5 linked regions of the Homo sapiens genome follow. The protein of the gene in region 3 interacts with the protein of the main gene of each other region in a pairwise test. Each region holds a gene or a part of one and is shown on either strand. Other genes may lie near its edges. The genes, in order: USF2, CCDC127, ENTREP1, POLH and WWC2.

Evidence for each region.
Region 1: the proteins of ENTREP1 (region 3) and USF2 interact in a two-hybrid assay, tested with the Homo sapiens proteins (one large-scale study listed by IntAct).
Region 2: the proteins of ENTREP1 (region 3) and CCDC127 interact in a two-hybrid assay, tested with the Homo sapiens proteins (one large-scale study listed by IntAct).
Region 4: the proteins of ENTREP1 (region 3) and POLH interact in a two-hybrid assay, tested with the Homo sapiens proteins (one large-scale study listed by IntAct).
Region 5: the proteins of ENTREP1 (region 3) and WWC2 interact in a two-hybrid assay, tested with the Homo sapiens proteins (one large-scale study listed by IntAct).

The regions. Positions count from the first base shown.
Region 1 is NC_000019.10:35,271,959-35,275,479, forward strand, and holds part of USF2 (upstream stimulatory factor 2), read left to right. Parts: intron 1-3,521.
Region 2 is NC_000005.10:198,740-201,153, reverse strand, and holds part of CCDC127 (coiled-coil domain-containing protein 127), read left to right. Parts: 3' UTR 1-2,414.
Region 3 is NC_000009.12:69,377,200-69,380,720, forward strand, and holds part of ENTREP1 (endosomal transmembrane epsin interactor 1), read left to right. Parts: intron 1-170; coding exon 171-278; intron 279-411; coding exon 412-545; intron 546-3,521. UniProt on the Homo sapiens protein: Functions as an activator of the E3 ubiquitin protein ligase ITCH in the ubiquitination of the CXCL12-activated CXCR4 receptor. Thereby, triggers CXCR4 endocytosis and desensitization, negatively regulating the CXCL12/CXCR4 signaling pathway.
Region 4 is NC_000006.12:43,614,172-43,617,611, forward strand, and holds part of POLH (DNA polymerase eta), read left to right. Parts: coding exon 1-386; 3' UTR 387-3,440. UniProt on the Homo sapiens protein: DNA polymerase specifically involved in the DNA repair by translesion synthesis (TLS). Due to low processivity on both damaged and normal DNA, cooperates with the heterotetrameric (REV3L, REV7, POLD2 and POLD3) POLZ complex for complete bypass of DNA lesions.
Region 5 is NC_000004.12:183,105,750-183,109,270, forward strand, and holds part of WWC2 (protein WWC2), read left to right. Parts: intron 1-3,521. UniProt on the Homo sapiens protein: Regulator of the Hippo signaling pathway, also known as the Salvador-Warts-Hippo (SWH) pathway.

The sequences.
Region 1 (3,521 bases), on a different chromosome or scaffold from region 3:
GTGGGGTGCTGGTTTGGTTGTGGGAGAAGTTCCATTTAGAATGCCTCAGGAGGGAAGATCGGGAAGGCCTCGAATGCCCGAGTGAGGGGCTGAATGCTGAGTCCTAAAGGTGGTGATGGGACTGGGGTCTGTGGCCCAGGTAGTTGTGTTCTGAGCAGCTCCTCCCTGAGTTCAGGCGTTCATTCAGCGCGTGCATACTACGACCAGCCCCCCTTTTGCGTCCTCAGATATGGCAATGCAGCAGATGATAGGACAGACAAGGTCTCAGCTCTCTGTGCGCGTTCTGGTGGGAGAGATGGGAGTCACACAGCCGCATCAGGCAGTGCAGGCAGTCACAGGCAGGAGAGGAAAGCTGGGGAAGAAGGTGGCGGGTGATGGCGGCATGGTAGTGTGCTCTGAAGGGCTCTTCGAGAGGTGACATTGAAGCAGATCCCTGAAGCGACCTGAGGGAAGGGGCCTGTTGAGAACCTCAGGAGAGTCCCGGGCAGAGGGAAGAGCTAGAACACAGGCCAGGCCCTGAGCCAGGGCCGCCATGGTGTGTCTGCAGAAGAGCAGAATTCAGGAAAGGAAAGAGGAAGTTGGCGCAGTGGAGGGGGCTGCCCAGGCCAGATGGTGGAGGACCTTGGAAGAAGTCCCCAGTGTGGCTGTCTGGGCTCCTGTGGTTTTATTCCAGGGTGATGAGAAGCCAGCAGAGGGGTTTGGGTTGTGGAGGCTGTTGGCAAGAGTGGTGGGAAGGGGCTGGGAGGTAGGAGACCATACGACTGTCAGGCCTGAGACAGGGCAGGGGTTGGGGGAAATGTGGGGAGGACTCCAAGGCTGGAGAATAAGGGTTTCGTGCTGAACTCCCCTCCATGCTTGGAAGGGAAGGGGTGCATCTGAGCTTGGTTTTGAGATGCAGTGAGTTTGAGGGGCCCCCAGAGCAGCCCCAGCCCCACGACTTACCTGTGGTGGGGCGTCAGGGTGGTTCTTAATCTCCGTACCTGTCTTCCCTCTGTGAAATGGTGGAAGCACAGCCGCCCCGGGCACCTGGTGGGGATGCAGTGAGTCTTGGTGGCCACACAGTAAGGCGAAGAGAGGACTCAGAACCCTCCCACCCCACTCTCACCCCCGCCTCTCCCTTAGTTAATCTGACTCCAGGCAGCCTTGAAACTTTCTCACCCTGTGAAGCAGTCTTCATCACCTGCCCACTTCTCCAGCTCCGTCCTGTCTCCGCTTTCCTGACTTGCAGAGCATCTGCCCCAATCTGCTCATCCTCCCAGTACCCTCAGCCATCTGGCTCATGGCTCTACCAAAACAGCTCCACTTCCGGTCACCCGTGGTGACCCCATTGCCACATCCACTGGCCTCCTTTGCTGTCTGGGCTCCAAGCATCTGATGCTGCCTGTTTCCCTCTGTTCCTTTCTGGAATCTTCCTTTCTCCTCCATCCTCTCTGATTCTCCTGTGATCTTTGCCTTTCCTACCCCACTGTTAACAGTGAAATTTCCAGGGCTGTCCCAGTTCCAAGTGAGTAGATGGGGGTGCCGGGGAATCTGTGTTTTCCATCAGCTCTTCAGGTGATTTGTCATAGTGGACAAGCTTGAGAAACTGCTTTGGCTGCGAGTGTTTCTTTTTTTTTGAGAAGGGGGTCTCACTCTGTCACCCAGGCTGGAGTACAGTGGCACAATCACAGCTCACTGCAGCCTTGACCTCCCAGGCTCAAGCGATCCTCACACCTCAGGCTTCTGAGTGGCTGGGACCACAGGCAGGCGTCATCACATGGGGTAATTTTTTTTTATCTGTAGAGTGGAGGTCTTGCTATGCTGCCCAGGCTCGTCTTGAACTTCTGGCCTCAGGCAGTCCTCCGGCCTCGGCTACAGGCCTGAGCTGCCACACCCAGTCTTGCTGGTGTTTCATAAGGTCCGGCCCCTCCCGTCGGCCTCAGGTGTATGACTTGTGAGGCCCAGCGATGGGCTCGGAAGCTCTTGGTCAGTATCCCCCAAACTCTGTTCCCCCTTGTAGGTGTTCCTCTTTTTTCTTTGCTGCAGAAGAGTGTGTGACTCACAAAAAGTTGAGGACTGTTCCTTGATGTCCTCCCAGGCTTCGCCCACCACCTGGCTCCTGGTAATGCAAGGAACTGTGTTTCCATCCATTCCCTTCCTTTCACTGCAACTCCAGCCCCACGTTTTGAACTACCTATTCGAGATTTCTGTCTCTGGACATCCCTGTAATGCCTCAAACTCAACTCGCCCAAAAGAGAATGTGCCATCTCCCGTCTCCAAAGGCTTTCATGCAACCTTCTTCTTTGCAGAGCAGCAAAAGCTACCCCTGTCACAGCTGCCCAAGCCAGAAACTAAGACCAGAGCCGCTTTCAACTCTGCCCTCTTCTTCCCTTATGGCCACAAACCCCAAGTTTCTCTTCTGTGGTGATTTCAGATCCGCTTCTCTCACTTCTTTTTCCCTCCTTCCCACCACTTCTTGGTACTGCAGGAGCTTATCCCAGAGTCACAGACTCAAATGCCTGCAGGGGCCTGAGGGAGGGAGGTGCACTTGGCATCTCAGGAAGGGGTGTGTGGCTGGGTGTGGTGGCTCCCGCCCGGAATCCCAGCACTTTTGGGATTACATTTTGGCCAAGACGGACGGATCACTTGAGCCCAGGAGTTTGAGACCATCCTAGGCAATGTGACAAAACCCTGTCTCTACCAAAAAAATTAAAAATTAGCCAGGCCTGGTGGTACATGCCTGTAACAGTCCCAGCTACTTGGGAACCTGTGGTGGGAAGATGGCTTGAGTCCGGGAGACAGAGGTTGCAGTGAGCTGAGATTACCCTCCAGCCTGAGCAACAGACCCAGACCTTGTGTCAGAAAAAGATAGGAAAGGTTGTGGGGGGCCCCCAGTGATCTGGGGCATGTGTGCGCTGCCTGAAGGGTGGCCCTTGCCCAGTGCCTTCCCCTTGCTGCCCTGTCAGAATCTAGGGCCACTGTTGCCAGAAACTCTGAGAAGCTAGAAATCGAGACTTATGTGAAATCTGATTTTTAGGTGCCAGATTAGATTGCTTTTTCCGTTTCATTGATTTCTACTCTTAATGTTACTAATTCATGCTTCTACTCACTTGGTTTTTTGTTTGTTTGTTGTTTTGTTTTGAGATGGAATCTCGCTCTGTCACAGTGGCGCAATCTCAGCTTACTACAACCTCTGCCTCCCCGGTTCAAGTGATTCTCCTGCCTCAGTCTCCCAAGTAGCTGGGACTACAGGTGCCCGCTGCCACACCTAGCTAGTTTTTGTATTTTTGGTAGAGACGGGGTTTCACCATGTTGGCCAGGCTGGTCTCGAACTCCTGGCCTCAGGTTATCCACCTGCCTCAGCCTCCCAAAGTGCTGGGATTACAGGAGTGAGCCACTGCACCCGGCCCCTTCTACTCACTTTGGATTCAATTTGCTAGGTTTCATGCTTTAGCTTCCCTGGCACACCCCAACCCCAGCTTTTTAAGGTAATTCTTTTTTTTTTTTTTTTTCCAATTTTCTACTAAAATCTTTATTTTACA
Region 2 (2,414 bases), on a different chromosome or scaffold from region 3:
CCGTGCGATGTTGGGAGGAGCCAGGGTGTTTGGGGGGGCAGCTGCCCTAGACACTGGCTGGCTGTGATGGGGGGCAGCCTGCTGTGTAGACACTGGCTGGCTGTGATGGGGGGCAGCCTGCTGTGTAGACACTGGCTGGCTGTGATGGGGGCAGCCTGCTGTGTAGACGCTGGCTGTGATGGGGGCAGCCTGCTGTGTAGACGCTGGCTGGCTGTGATGGGGGCAGCCTGCTGTGTAGACGCTGGCTAGCTGTGATGGGGGCAGCCTGCTGTGTAGACGCTGGCTGGCTGTGATGGGGGCAGCCTGCTGTGTAGAAAGTGCTGGGCTTGCTCCGTCTGCCTTGACTTGTGTGAGTAACTGCGCTGGGTTTTATAGGTTGAGGCTGAAAAGGCTCCTCTTTCTATGCTGGGTTTGACGAAACAGTTGCTGTATTTCTCTATTAATTTAGGATTCTGTTTGCAAGCAGCAGAGATGGATTTGTGCTAGCCTAGAAAGTTAAAGAGGGATTTAAGGCTGTCTCGTGAAACTTCAGGTCAAGAATGGAGAACACAGGTTAGATGTCAGAGAAGAACCAGAAAGACAAATAAGGGACTCTCAGGGGCCTCGGAGTACTTGTCACTCTGTGTCATATCTCTGCATAGCCGCGCCAATCCCCAAACCAGCTTCTCTGGCCACACGGTGGGACAGGGCGGTTCCCACAGCTCCTGAGCCTGCCCCCTGCCTGGCCTGCTCCAGCGGGCGGCCGAGTTAGGGAAGCGCTGGGCTCCACCATACCGCGGTGTTCTAAAGGAGTGGGAACAATGAAGATCAGGGTTGCAGAGCCTGTGGCCTTTGCTAGCTTCATGGGAAATCTTGAAAAGAGAAAACGAAGGGCTTCAGTAAGCCACCCATGGACAGCAGGCATGCGGTGGAAGGCGGAGGGCTTCTGTGGCAGCTTCGCAGGTCTCTCATCTGCTGCAGACCCCCTGACAGGCTGAGGGTCTTGCTGTCGGGTAGCGGGACCAGATGAGCCTGAATGTGGCTCTGCGGCTCACAGGACAAGTGTACCTTGAGAGCTGCTGCCGCCGCCTGGATGTTTGCTGGGTGAGCTCCAGATTCACGGGAGCCCTTTGTGCCAGCATGGCCGCCCCAACCCCATGGGGAAAGCAGATCTCCCTCACCTGGGAATCTGGCAGAGACCTCAGGCAGTGCCCCATCTTTCATGACCTGCCTGGTCCAGGTAGAGGAGTCAAGTCCTGCTCCAGGAGCAGGTGCAGGGCCTGGCCTGGGTGCCGAGAGTGGGGTGAGGAGGGAGGAGTAACGAAGAAAGGCAGATGGGCAGAAAGTGCCACATTGGGGCACTCAAGTGGCTCTGTTTAATATTCCAGCAGGGACACTGAGACCGAGCCCATCCCTGCTGGGAGAGCTTCTCGAAGCTGGTTGGTGGCTGACAGGCAGGGAGTGGGGTGCTGGGGCCTCCTCGGGAGGTAGGGGTGCTGGGGCCCTGCTCTTGACAGCACTGTGCCATAGCTCCGAGGTGGCTGCTCCCCATGGGCCAGGGCTGGTGGTGCCAGAAAATGGGATCTGGGCTGAGGGGCTCTGGGCTGGCAGAGGTGGGGCGGGGGGTGACTGGCAGGCATCAAGATGGGGGGGGACAAGCACGGTGCCCCCACCCATGGGGCCGTGTGGGGCTGATGGATAGTGGGACTCCAGCATGCAGCAGATGATGGAGCCTTGCTCAACTCAGAAGAGGAAGAGCAGGAGAGCGCTGGTGGATGAGAGCAACCCTGATGTTCCAGGGCCCTTGGCCACGTCCACCACACAGAGGGGCCACGTCCACACAGAGGGGCCACGTCCACCACACAGAGGGGCCACGTCCACCACACAGGGGCCACTGGGCCTGCGTATATCTCCTTGGCCTGCGAGGGTATCATCATTTCCTGACCTGTGGAACAAGTCATTAAGCCAGGAAGGACTTGAGTTGGAGCCCCTAAAACGGCCCCCACTCCTTGCCAGGATGGTGGACAGGAAGCAGTGCCATGTTCTGAAGGAGCTGCACCAGCCCATGCTGCTGTGGAAGACCCAAGGGAGGCAAAGACGGTGGCTCCAGATGGCGGCCCCCATTGGGACCCTGCTCACATCACCCACTGGCCCTGGAAAGCCGGGGTGGGCCTGGGCAGGTGAACCCTGAGGCTCCGCCAGGAGCAGCCCCAGCTACAGCCACCATGGATGTTTGCTGGGTTGGATCAGCACTCTCACCTGCTGAATGGTTTTGCCTGATTCCCACTAGCTTGTCTTGTGTGGGAGGCCGTGTTTTCTGCGGTAGAGAAGTGCTCTCCATAAAAACCCAGCAGGCGTGCTCCTGGGCCCTGCAGACGCCGGATGTGTGGCCACAGACGCCATGCGACCCAGGACTGGAGTCACAAGATTGGGCG
Region 3 (3,521 bases):
TTTATTTGGGCACTTTCCACGAGCCAAACACCATCTAAGTCCTTTACATGCATCCTCTCCTGAGAATTGTCTTATGGAGGCAGCGTTATTATTATTTTAAAGATTTTCTACATTGTATTCTGGTGATGTTTGTTGAAGTACTTAGTGGTGCCATTGTTTCCTTGCCCCAGAAAGTCCTCTTTGCCCTGTGTGCCTTGAATGCCCTGACCACCACCGTCTGCTTGGTGGCCGCTGCCCTCCGCTACCTCCAGATATTCGCAACCAGGAGATCCTGCATCGTAAGTCTATGCAAGGGCATCATGGCCACGTTTCCGCTGAGCCAGCCCATGGACCCCTTCGTGTCATCCACTGCCTCTCTCCCCGTGCCTTTGTAATGAAGGCTGTTGACTAACTGAGCTGCTGTTTAATCAGGATGAATCCCAGATTTCTGCTGAAGAAGCGGAGGATCATGGACGCATCCCCGACCCTGATGATTTTGTGCCGCCTGTGCCTCCCCCTTCCTATTTTGCCACGTTTTACTCGTGCACACCCCGGATGAACCGCAGGTATCGTTCCTGAGTTCCCCTGCAGTCTGAGTGGGATGCTGTGGGTTCTGAAGACTGAAGTGTCTCCAGAACTCACCACATGAGATCTCACTTTTCTTTGAAAAAGAAAAAGAAAAATTTTTCCTGACTTGAGGAACGTTAGCCCAATGAGTGACAAAATCAGCTAGTGAACCCTGTGGTATGGCTTTTAGAGAGTCCACCTCTGCCAGCCTTCTTTAGAAAAATGAAAAACAATTATGCTGTTTTTCAGGGGTTTCTATTCTCTCTGTCTCTCTCTCTCTGTTTTCTGTCTTACTTTCTCTTTTTGTCTGATAAAACAGATGAATCCAAAGAAAAGTTAAACTTTGGCCTGAAGATAGACATTTTCAATTTCAATTAGCTTTCTAAGGGAAACTGACACCCAGGGAGATAACAGCTGTAATTTGACATGATTGAGAGTCGCTGTTGCCTTGGAAACACTCCCAGTTAGGCCAAATCGATGTTTCATTGTAATACCATCAGCAGGTCTCAACAATCAAGAAATTCTTCCTAGCCATTAAAAAGAGATTAATTATTAATTGTCTCTCCCTGGTCTAGAAAAAATAGATACCATACTTATTTTCCTTTTCAAATTTCAAACTTAAAATTTTGACCTTCTTAAATATCAAGGATTTTTATTGGTACAGTGAAATGCCGCATACATCTGTCTGATTGTTAGCAACTTCTAGAATCAAACCTTTTTTTAAAGAATGACTTCATTTAGGCGCGGCGTGGTGGCTCACACCTGTAATCCCAGCACTTTGGGAGGCTGAGGCGGGCAGATCATGAGGTCAGGAGATCAAGACCATCCTGGCTAACCCCCGTCTCTACTAAAAATACAAAAAAATTAGCCGGGCATGGTAGTGGGCACCTGTAGTCCCAGCTACTTGGGAGGCTGAGGCAGGAGAATGGCATGAACCTGGGAGGTGGAGCTTGCAGTGAGCTGAGATCGCACCACTGCACTCCAGCCTGGGTGAGAGCGAGACTTTGTCTCAAAAAAAAAAAAAAGAATGACTTCATTCGTTTATTCATTCAACAAACGTGGAATCCTCTGTGCTGGGTTATTGGAATTCAAAATGAGCTAGACCTGCTTCCTCCTCTACCATTAAGGAGCTCACAGTCTAGGTCATTAAAATGTGTGTTGGAAGGATCACGGTAATATTCAAAAGAGGGACTTTGGGTGCACAGAGAAGGTACACCTAACCCAGAGTGGCAAGGCAGTCAGAGATGGCTTCCTGGATGAAGTGAACTTAAGCTGAGTTTAAAGGATAAGCAAACATCTGTTGAACTTTTTGAAAGAGAATCTCTTAATTCCACAGAAATACTAGTGTCTTTAGCTTCATATTCAGAGGGCCAGAAATTTCTATTTTTTAATCCCTGTAGTACATGTAGAGACTTATCAAACTAACTTGGTGCTGAGCTTGAGGTTTTTAGAGAAGTATTTTCTAATGTCCAGGGTGATGGTATGTGACTTTGAGATAGGTCACCAGTGGGGCTGCCACCCAGACACTGTTAGTGTTCTTTTCAGTGGCTTAGCTGCTGACTCGTCCCTCAGTTATACCTGAACCCTACGTCTATACCCTCCCCAGCTCACTTGCCCAGGCAGGGGCAGAGATGACTGCAAAGCTGGAGGGGATGTCAGCTGGGTGACAGGTGGCCTGGGCTAGGCCTGTGGGACAGCTTGGCCTCTCTGGTGTTCAGGGAGTGGCCTCTACTGGAATTTCAAAGCCTCAGGGGCTGGGATGGCTTCCTTAATCTTTCAGGAAATGAGCCAAGAATGACAGAGGCTGAAGAGATATGGCAGCAAAACACATGTTCTTTCTGTACCTGAGGACACATTTGCAAAAATCTTAGCGCCGTCTCAGGCTGTCTGTAGAGGGTACATTGGAGGACAGTAAAAAATGACTGATATTTCATGGTGGGGATGAGAAATACCCTCTCCAATAAGAAGAATTCTTTGACACTGAGGTTGCGGATGAGCACTCTGTTGACCTAGGAGGAGGCAGCAGACAGATTTAGTTTCTGCAGTGGCAGAAAGGGAAAGTGACTCATGTGGGTTTAGGAGCCGAGCCATCCAGCAGTGTGCTCTGAGCACTCCCGACCTTCCTGTCTCCTCGCTTTCCTTTCTCTTCTCTGCTTCACCATAATAATGCTCATCACTGCAGATATTTCCACTCTTTAAGATCTAGGTGCATCCTCGGATTTGTCTCTCTGAGTCCTGAGACAGCCTCTGGCCAAATCCAGGTTGGAAGAAAACAGACAAGCTTCTCATCAAGGGCTTTATCCTTCAAAACTTTCTAGAAAGAAGGCCGAAGGAGGGAGTTAAAGCAAAACAGTCTTGTGAGAAAGAAGACATTGCCCAGTCTAAAATACGTGCCTAGAGCCCTATAATCATATTGCCAATGGGCAAACACCTTTATTTTTGGAAATTTTACCAATATCAGAGTGCAGTCCACTTTCCTTTTCAAAAGGGCTGAATTTATTCACATTTAGATACATGTCCTATCAAAAATATTTCACAATGTGACCAACTTTTCTAGATTCACGGTATAAATCAACTTTATAGACACTCATGGTTTAACCTCAGTTGGTAATTTTCTTTCTTTTAAGCAGGCAGGCAAGAATATTCATGATTGTTACTATTTTATGACCAGTTTTATCCAGAGTTTTCACACAACAGAGGCTCCCCATTTCCTGTAAGGTATTATGACCTCTCAGAAGAGGTTTGTTTAACTTCTATAAATACAACCACTTCATGCGTTGGCATCTCCTTGAGAAAAGGCTTCTCGAGTTACTGTCATAAACAGAAGTCTGATTGCAGTTGAGGTTTCTGTCCAAAGATGGGTTCGCTACTTTGTGAATTGATTTGTAATACAGGAGGGGGCCGTGCACCCCACCCCACCTCCGCTACTCCAGGGTGTCTCTGTTCTCAGAAGTTGGCTTGAGCCAGGGATCAAG
Region 4 (3,440 bases), on a different chromosome or scaffold from region 3:
AATCCTCTAAAGCAACTCCTGCAGAGATGGATTTGGCCCACAACAGCCAAAGCATGCACGCCTCTTCAGCTTCCAAATCTGTGCTGGAGGTGACTCAGAAAGCAACCCCAAATCCAAGTCTTCTAGCTGCTGAGGACCAAGTGCCCTGTGAGAAGTGTGGCTCCCTGGTACCGGTATGGGATATGCCAGAACACATGGACTATCATTTTGCATTGGAGTTGCAGAAATCCTTTTTGCAGCCCCACTCTTCAAACCCCCAGGTTGTTTCTGCCGTATCTCATCAAGGCAAAAGAAATCCCAAGAGCCCTTTGGCCTGCACTAATAAACGCCCCAGGCCTGAGGGCATGCAAACATTGGAATCATTTTTTAAGCCATTAACACATTAGTGCTGCCCTCAGGCTTGCCTGTAGGATTTAATATTTTTTATCTTTACAGATCTTTATCTTTAATATTTTATCTTTACAGATTTCCCTGAGAAAGGGAATTATGAAATTTTTAATACAAAAAATAATCCATTTAGGTGCTGAGTTACGGTCCCATCTCTTCACAGGCATGGATTCTAATCCCACTGCTGACAGAGATGTAAAAATTCATCCTACCAGAGTTTTTAATCTTTAGCATTTAGGGAGGCAGTGTCATAAAGTAAAAAGTGTGTGGGCCTTGGAGTCTAAGAGACGTGGTTGCAAACTTAGCTCTGGTTATTGCAATGAGGGCCTTGAACAAGTCATTTTCTTCACATTCTCATCTGTAAAATGGAGATAATACCTTACAGATTATTGCAGATTAATAACAATGTATTCAAATTATGTAACTCGGCCGGGTACAATGGCTCACGCCTGTAATCCTAACACTTTGGGAGGCCGAGGCAGACAGATCACCTGAGGTCAGGAGTTTGAGACCAGCCTGGCCAACATGGCAAAACCATCTCTACTAAAAATAGAAAAATTAGCCAGGCACGTTCCAGGCACCTGTGATCCCAGCTACTTAGAGGCTGAGGCAGAAGAATTGCTTTAACCTTGGAGGCGGAGGTTGCATTGAGCTGAGATCATGCTAGTGCGCTCCAGCCTGGGCAACAGAGCGAGACTTCATCTCAGAAAATAAAAAATAGGGGCCAGGCACAGTGGCTCATACCTGTAATGCCAGCACTTTGGGAGGCCAAGGCGGGCAGATCACGAGGTCAGGAGTTTCAGACCAATATGGTGAAACCCCATCTCTACTAAAATTACAAAAAAAATTATCCAGGCGTGGTGGTGCACGCCTGTAATCCCAGCTACTCAGGAGGCTAAGGCAGGAGAATCACTTGAACCCAGGAGGCAGAGGTTGGAGTGAGCTGAGATCGCGCCACCGCACTCCAGCCTGGGCAACAGAGCGAGACTCCATCTCAAACAAAAACAAGAACAAAAACAAACATAAAGTTGGCACAGAAAAGGGACCAAGTTTAAAAAAGGGTTTTAAATGTAATGAGACTTGCATAGTTAAAAAAAAAAAAGGGATTATTTTTATTTTTATTTTTTATTTTTGAGACGGAGTCTCCCTCTGTCGTCAGGCTAGAATGCAGTGGTGCGTTCTCAGCTCACCGCAACCTCCGTCTCCTGGGTTCAAGCAATTCTCCTGCCTCAGCCTCCCAAGTAGCTGGGACTACAGGCACGTGCTACCACACTCAGCTAATTTTTGTATTTTTAATAGAGATGAGGTTTCACCATGTTGGCCAGGATGGTCTCGATTGCTTGACCTCATGATCCGCCTGCCTCGACCTCCCAAAGTTGCTGGGATTACAGATGTTAGCCACCGATCCTGGCCCCCCCAAAAAAAGGATTTTAAGAAAAACTTCTCTTGGCCGGGCGCAGTGGCTCACGCCTGCAATCCCAGCACTTTGGGAGGCCGAGGCGGGCGGATCACAAGGTCAGGAGATCGAGACCACGGTGAAACCCCGTCTCTACTAAAAAATACAAAAAAAAATTAGCCGGGTGCGGTGGCAGGCGCCTGTAGTCCCAGCTACTCGGGAGGCTGAGGCAGGAGAATGGTGTGAACCCGGGAGGCGGAGCTTGCAGTGAGCCGAGAGCGCGCCACTGCACTCCAGCCTGGGTGACAGAGCGAGACTCCGTCTCAAAAAAAAAAAAAAAAGAAAAACTTCTCTTTAGGCTGGGTGCGGTTCCTCATGCCTATAATCCCAGCATTTAGGGAGGCTGAGGTGAGTGGATTGCAGGAGCTCAGGAGTTCGAGACCAGCCTGGGCAAGGTGGCAAAACCCCGTCTCTACTAAAAAAAATTAGCTGGGCTTGGTGGCAGGCGCCTGTAATCCCAGGTACTCGGGAGACTGAGGCAGGAGAATTGCTTGAACCTGGAAGGTGGAGGTTGCAGTGAGTTGAGATCACACCAATGCACTCCAGCCAGGGTGAGAGTGAGAGACTGTCTCAAAAAAAAAAAAAACAAAAGAAAAACTTCTCTCTAGCTCTGTGACGGGCAGTTCAGATAATACCTTCACCAGATTTACCTGTTTTCAGCTGAAGAATGTGAGATGAAGCCTTGAAACCCTAAAAGTGATATGGTAACTAGGGCAGGTCTTTCTGTACATAAAAGTGACTTAATAAACAGTGAATTTCATACAGGTAAACCCTATTATACCCTCAGTTCTAACCATTGGCCTATCTCTTGCGTTTTGTTCTAATGTAGAATTAGATTGCTACTTGACTAGTTCAGGAACTCTGTTTAGATCTGATAAGTCATAATCAAATCTTGCCAGGCGTGGTGGTTTATGCCTGTTATCCCAGCACTTTGGGAGGCCAAGGCAGGTGGACCACGTGAAGTCAGGAGTTCAAGACAAGCATGGCCAACATGGCGAAACCCTGTATCTACTAAAAATACAAAAATTAGCCGGGCATGGTGGTGGGTGCGTGTAATCCCAGCTAGTTGGGAGGCTGAGGCAGGAGAATCACTTGAACCTGGGAGGCAGAGGTTGCAGTGAGCCGAGATTTCCACTGCATTCCAGCCTGGGCGATAGAGTAACTCTGTCTCAAAAAAACCCACTAGATCATCTCTAGAACATTGCTACTCCCAAGTATGATTTGAGGAACAGCAGCCTCAGTATCACCAGGGAACTTATTAGAAATAGTCTCAGCCTCACCACTATTCCCACTTAATTGTAATCTGATATTAACAAGATTTCCCAATGTGGGTCAGGTGTGGTGGCTCATGCCTGTAATCCCACACTTTGGGAGGCCAAGGTGGGCGGATCACTTGAGGCTGGGAGTTTGAGACCAGGCTGGCCAACATGGGGAAAACCCATCTCTACAAAAAATAACAAAAATTAGGTGTGTGTGGTGACGCATGCGTGTAATCCCAGCTACTTAGGAGGCTGAGGCAGGAGAATCACTTGAATCTGGGAGGCAGAGGTTGTAGTGAGCTGAGATTGTGCCACTGCACTCCAGTCTGGGCAACAGA
Region 5 (3,521 bases), on a different chromosome or scaffold from region 3:
CGTGGTGGCGGGTGCCTGTAGTCCCAGCTACTTGGGTGGCTGAGGCAGGAGAATGGCGTGAACCCGGGAAGCGGAGCTTGCAGTGAGCAGACATTGCGCCAATGCACTCCAGCCTGGGTGACAGAACGGGACTCTGTCTTAAAAAAAAAAAAAAAAGAATTTTGGACTTCTTTATGCATTTCTAAACTCCTGTTACTGAAAAAGTTACCACAGAATAATGTAGAAGAGGAAAGGGATTTTTTTTTTTTGACAAGAGTTTTATTCTTGTTGCCCAGGCTGGGGTGCAGTGGTGTGATTTCGGCTCACTACAGCCTCCGCCTCCTGGGTTCAAGGTTCAAGCAATTCTGCCTCAGCCTCCCGAGTAGCTGGGATTATAGGCTCTCGCCACCACGCCCAGCTAGTTTTTGTATTTTTAATAGAGATGGGGTTTCACCATGTTGGCCAGGCTAGTCTCGAACTTCTGACCTCAGGTGATCTGCCCATCTCAGCCTCCCAAAATGCTGGGATTACAGGCATGAGCCACCACGCCCGGCTGAGGAAAGGGATTTTTAAAGGCACAGTGTGTATGTAAGTTGTGAGATACAAATGATTTATCAAAATATAGGTTCACAATGTTTTCAATGTCTTCAGTGATTTTTTCCAATTATTTTATCTTTATTAGATTAAAAAAATTCCTCAGCATAAAATTATTCATTTTAACCATTTTGAAGACTACACCTTAGTAGTTTTTAGTATATTCATTGTTATGAAACCATAAACACTGTATAATTCCTGAACATTTTAATCACCCCCAAAACAAACGACCCCTTACCTATTAAGAACTCACTTCTCATTCATCTCCCGTCTCTACAGCTTTTTGCAAAAACTGATCTACTTTGTGTCTCTGAATTTGCCTATTCTGGACATTTTATATAAATGGAATAGTAAAATTTGTATCCCTTTGTATCTGGCTTCTTTTTTTCTTAGTGTAATGCATTCAGGGTTCATTTTGTAGCATTTATTGTACTACTGCATCATTTTCATGACTTAATAATATTCGATTGTGTAGATATACCATATTTTGTACTTTCATTAGCTGATGTGCATTTGGGTCATTTCCACTCTTTGGCTGTTATGAATGATGCTGCTATGAATATCCCTGTACAATTTTTGTATGAATGTGTGTCTTCAGTTCTCTTCAGTATATACATGTCTAAAAGTGGAGTTGCTGGGTCATATGGCAGTTCTATGTTTAACTTTTTGAGGGGACTGCTAGACTGTTTACCACCATTTTACATTCCCACCAGCAGGGTATGAGTGTGCAAATTCCTCCACATCCTCACCAACACTTCTCTCTCTTTCTCTCCTTCTCTCCTCTTTCTGTCTCTCTCTTCTCTTTCCTTCTCTTCTCTTCTCTCTTTTCTTTTTTTCTTTTCTTTCTTCTTTTGAGACGGAGCCGGTCTCTCTTGCCCAGGCTGGAGTGCAGTGGTGATCTCGGCTCACTGCGGCTTCCACCTCCACCTCCAGGGTTCAACAGATCCTCCCACCTCAGCCTCCTGAGTAGCTGGGATTATAGGCACAAGCCACCATGCCTGGGCAATTTTTGTATTTTTAGTAGAGACGGGGTTGGGCCGGTCTCGAACTTTTGACCTCAAGTGATCTGCCTACCTTGGCCTTCCAAAGTGCTAGGATTACAGATGTGAGCCACCACAACTGGCCTCACTTCTTTCTTTTTTTTAAAAAGTTATTTTAGTGGGTGTGAGGTAGGATCTTACTGTGGTGTTGATTTGTATTTCCCTCTTCGTAGTGTTTTGATGGCCTTAGTTGGGCCCAAGCCTCCCCTTATTCTAGCCTTTTATAGCTGTTGCTATTCTGCCCCCTTTTTGTTTGTGTACTCTCACTCTTACTTGATCAATAAAAAGTTAGGTAAGAGAAGTTAGAGGGTTTTTTTAGTCTCACATTGCTCTTCCCTTTTCTCCCTATCTGATTGCTTTGAGTGATTATTTAATACTGACATTGTAGATATGCATTAATTAACAGTTTTTATTGTATCAACCAGCCAGGTACCCTGGACTCTGGGAGATAAAGATGGATAAGATTTGGTCCCAGCTCAGCTTGCCTACAATCTAGTGTGCATAATCATCATTTAAAAAGTGAAAGAAAATTTTGAGTATTATCTGTTAAATTTTCTCTATATTCCTATATTTCAGTTTAAGGGTACCTTCTTCCTAAACACTCAGAGGGAAGACAGTTGAAAGGAATTAAAAGCAGAATATATTGGCAAAGTATATATTAATTTTTTTCTTTATTTCAAATGTGATGTATTTTATGAGGCATTTGTGTGAGTCACGTAATGAATCATATGTGCAATGTATATACATCAGCTTATTCAAAATGATTTGACATGTAAAGGCTTTTCCTTTTAGCTCGTTATATATGTGAAGAATTAAATTTATTTTTGTTCATTGTTTTTTTAAAAAATGGCAGGAGCAAACCTGACAAGCGCTGCCTCCATCAGGTGATCAAAGGGAACATCCAGGGCACTAAGTCCTGCTGATACACCCTTGATGTGATGTGGTGACAATGGCATTTTATCTTTGTGGTCTTTCTCCCCCAAAACCGTAGTAACTCCAGTCTAATCTTGAGAAAAACACCTACTGGATCCCAGTAGAGGGGTATCCTATAAAATACCTGACCAGTACCCCTCAAAACCGTCAAGATCCTCACCAATAAGGAAAGTCTGAGAAACCCTCACAGCCATGAGGAGCGTAAGGAGACACCAAGACTAAATGTAATGTGTCCCAGGGGTGGAGGAGTCCTGGGCTGGAAAAAGGACATTAGGTGAAAACTAAGGAAATCTGAATAAGGTATGGATTGTAGTTAAAATTTTTTTTTTTTTTGAGACACAGCCTCACTCTTTCACCCAGGCTGGAGTGCAGTGTTGTGATCTCGGCTCACTGCAGCCTCAGCCTCCCGGGTTCAAGCAATTCTCCTGCCTCAGCCTCCCCAGTAGCTGGGATTACAGGCATGTGCCACCACACCCAGCTAATTTTTGTATTTTTAGTAGAGATAGGGTTTCACCATGTTGGCCAGGCTAGTCTTGAACTCCTGACCTAGTGATCTGCCTGCCTCGGCCTCCCAAAGTGCTGGGATTACAGGTGTGAGACACCACACCCGGCCCGATTGTAGTTAATTTTATTAATGTTAATAGATGTACCATACCAACAGGGAAAAGTAAGTGTGGACTATATATGGCAACTTTCCACACTAATTTTGTGGTTTTTTTTCTATAAATCTAAGACTGTTCTAAAAAATAAAATTTTAAAAGACCTCTTAAAAGTCACACAAAACGAAGTGATTTTCTTTGGTGGAAGCATAACCATGTTTGTTGTTTATATGAAAATTCTGCTTTGTAGGCCTCATTTTAGCCCTCCAGCTAAGAATGGGTTTTAAATCATGAAAAGCTGTAAACAAACAAACAAAAATAAAGAAGAATATGTGACAGAGACTAAATGTGGTTCACAAAGCCTGGAATGTTTACT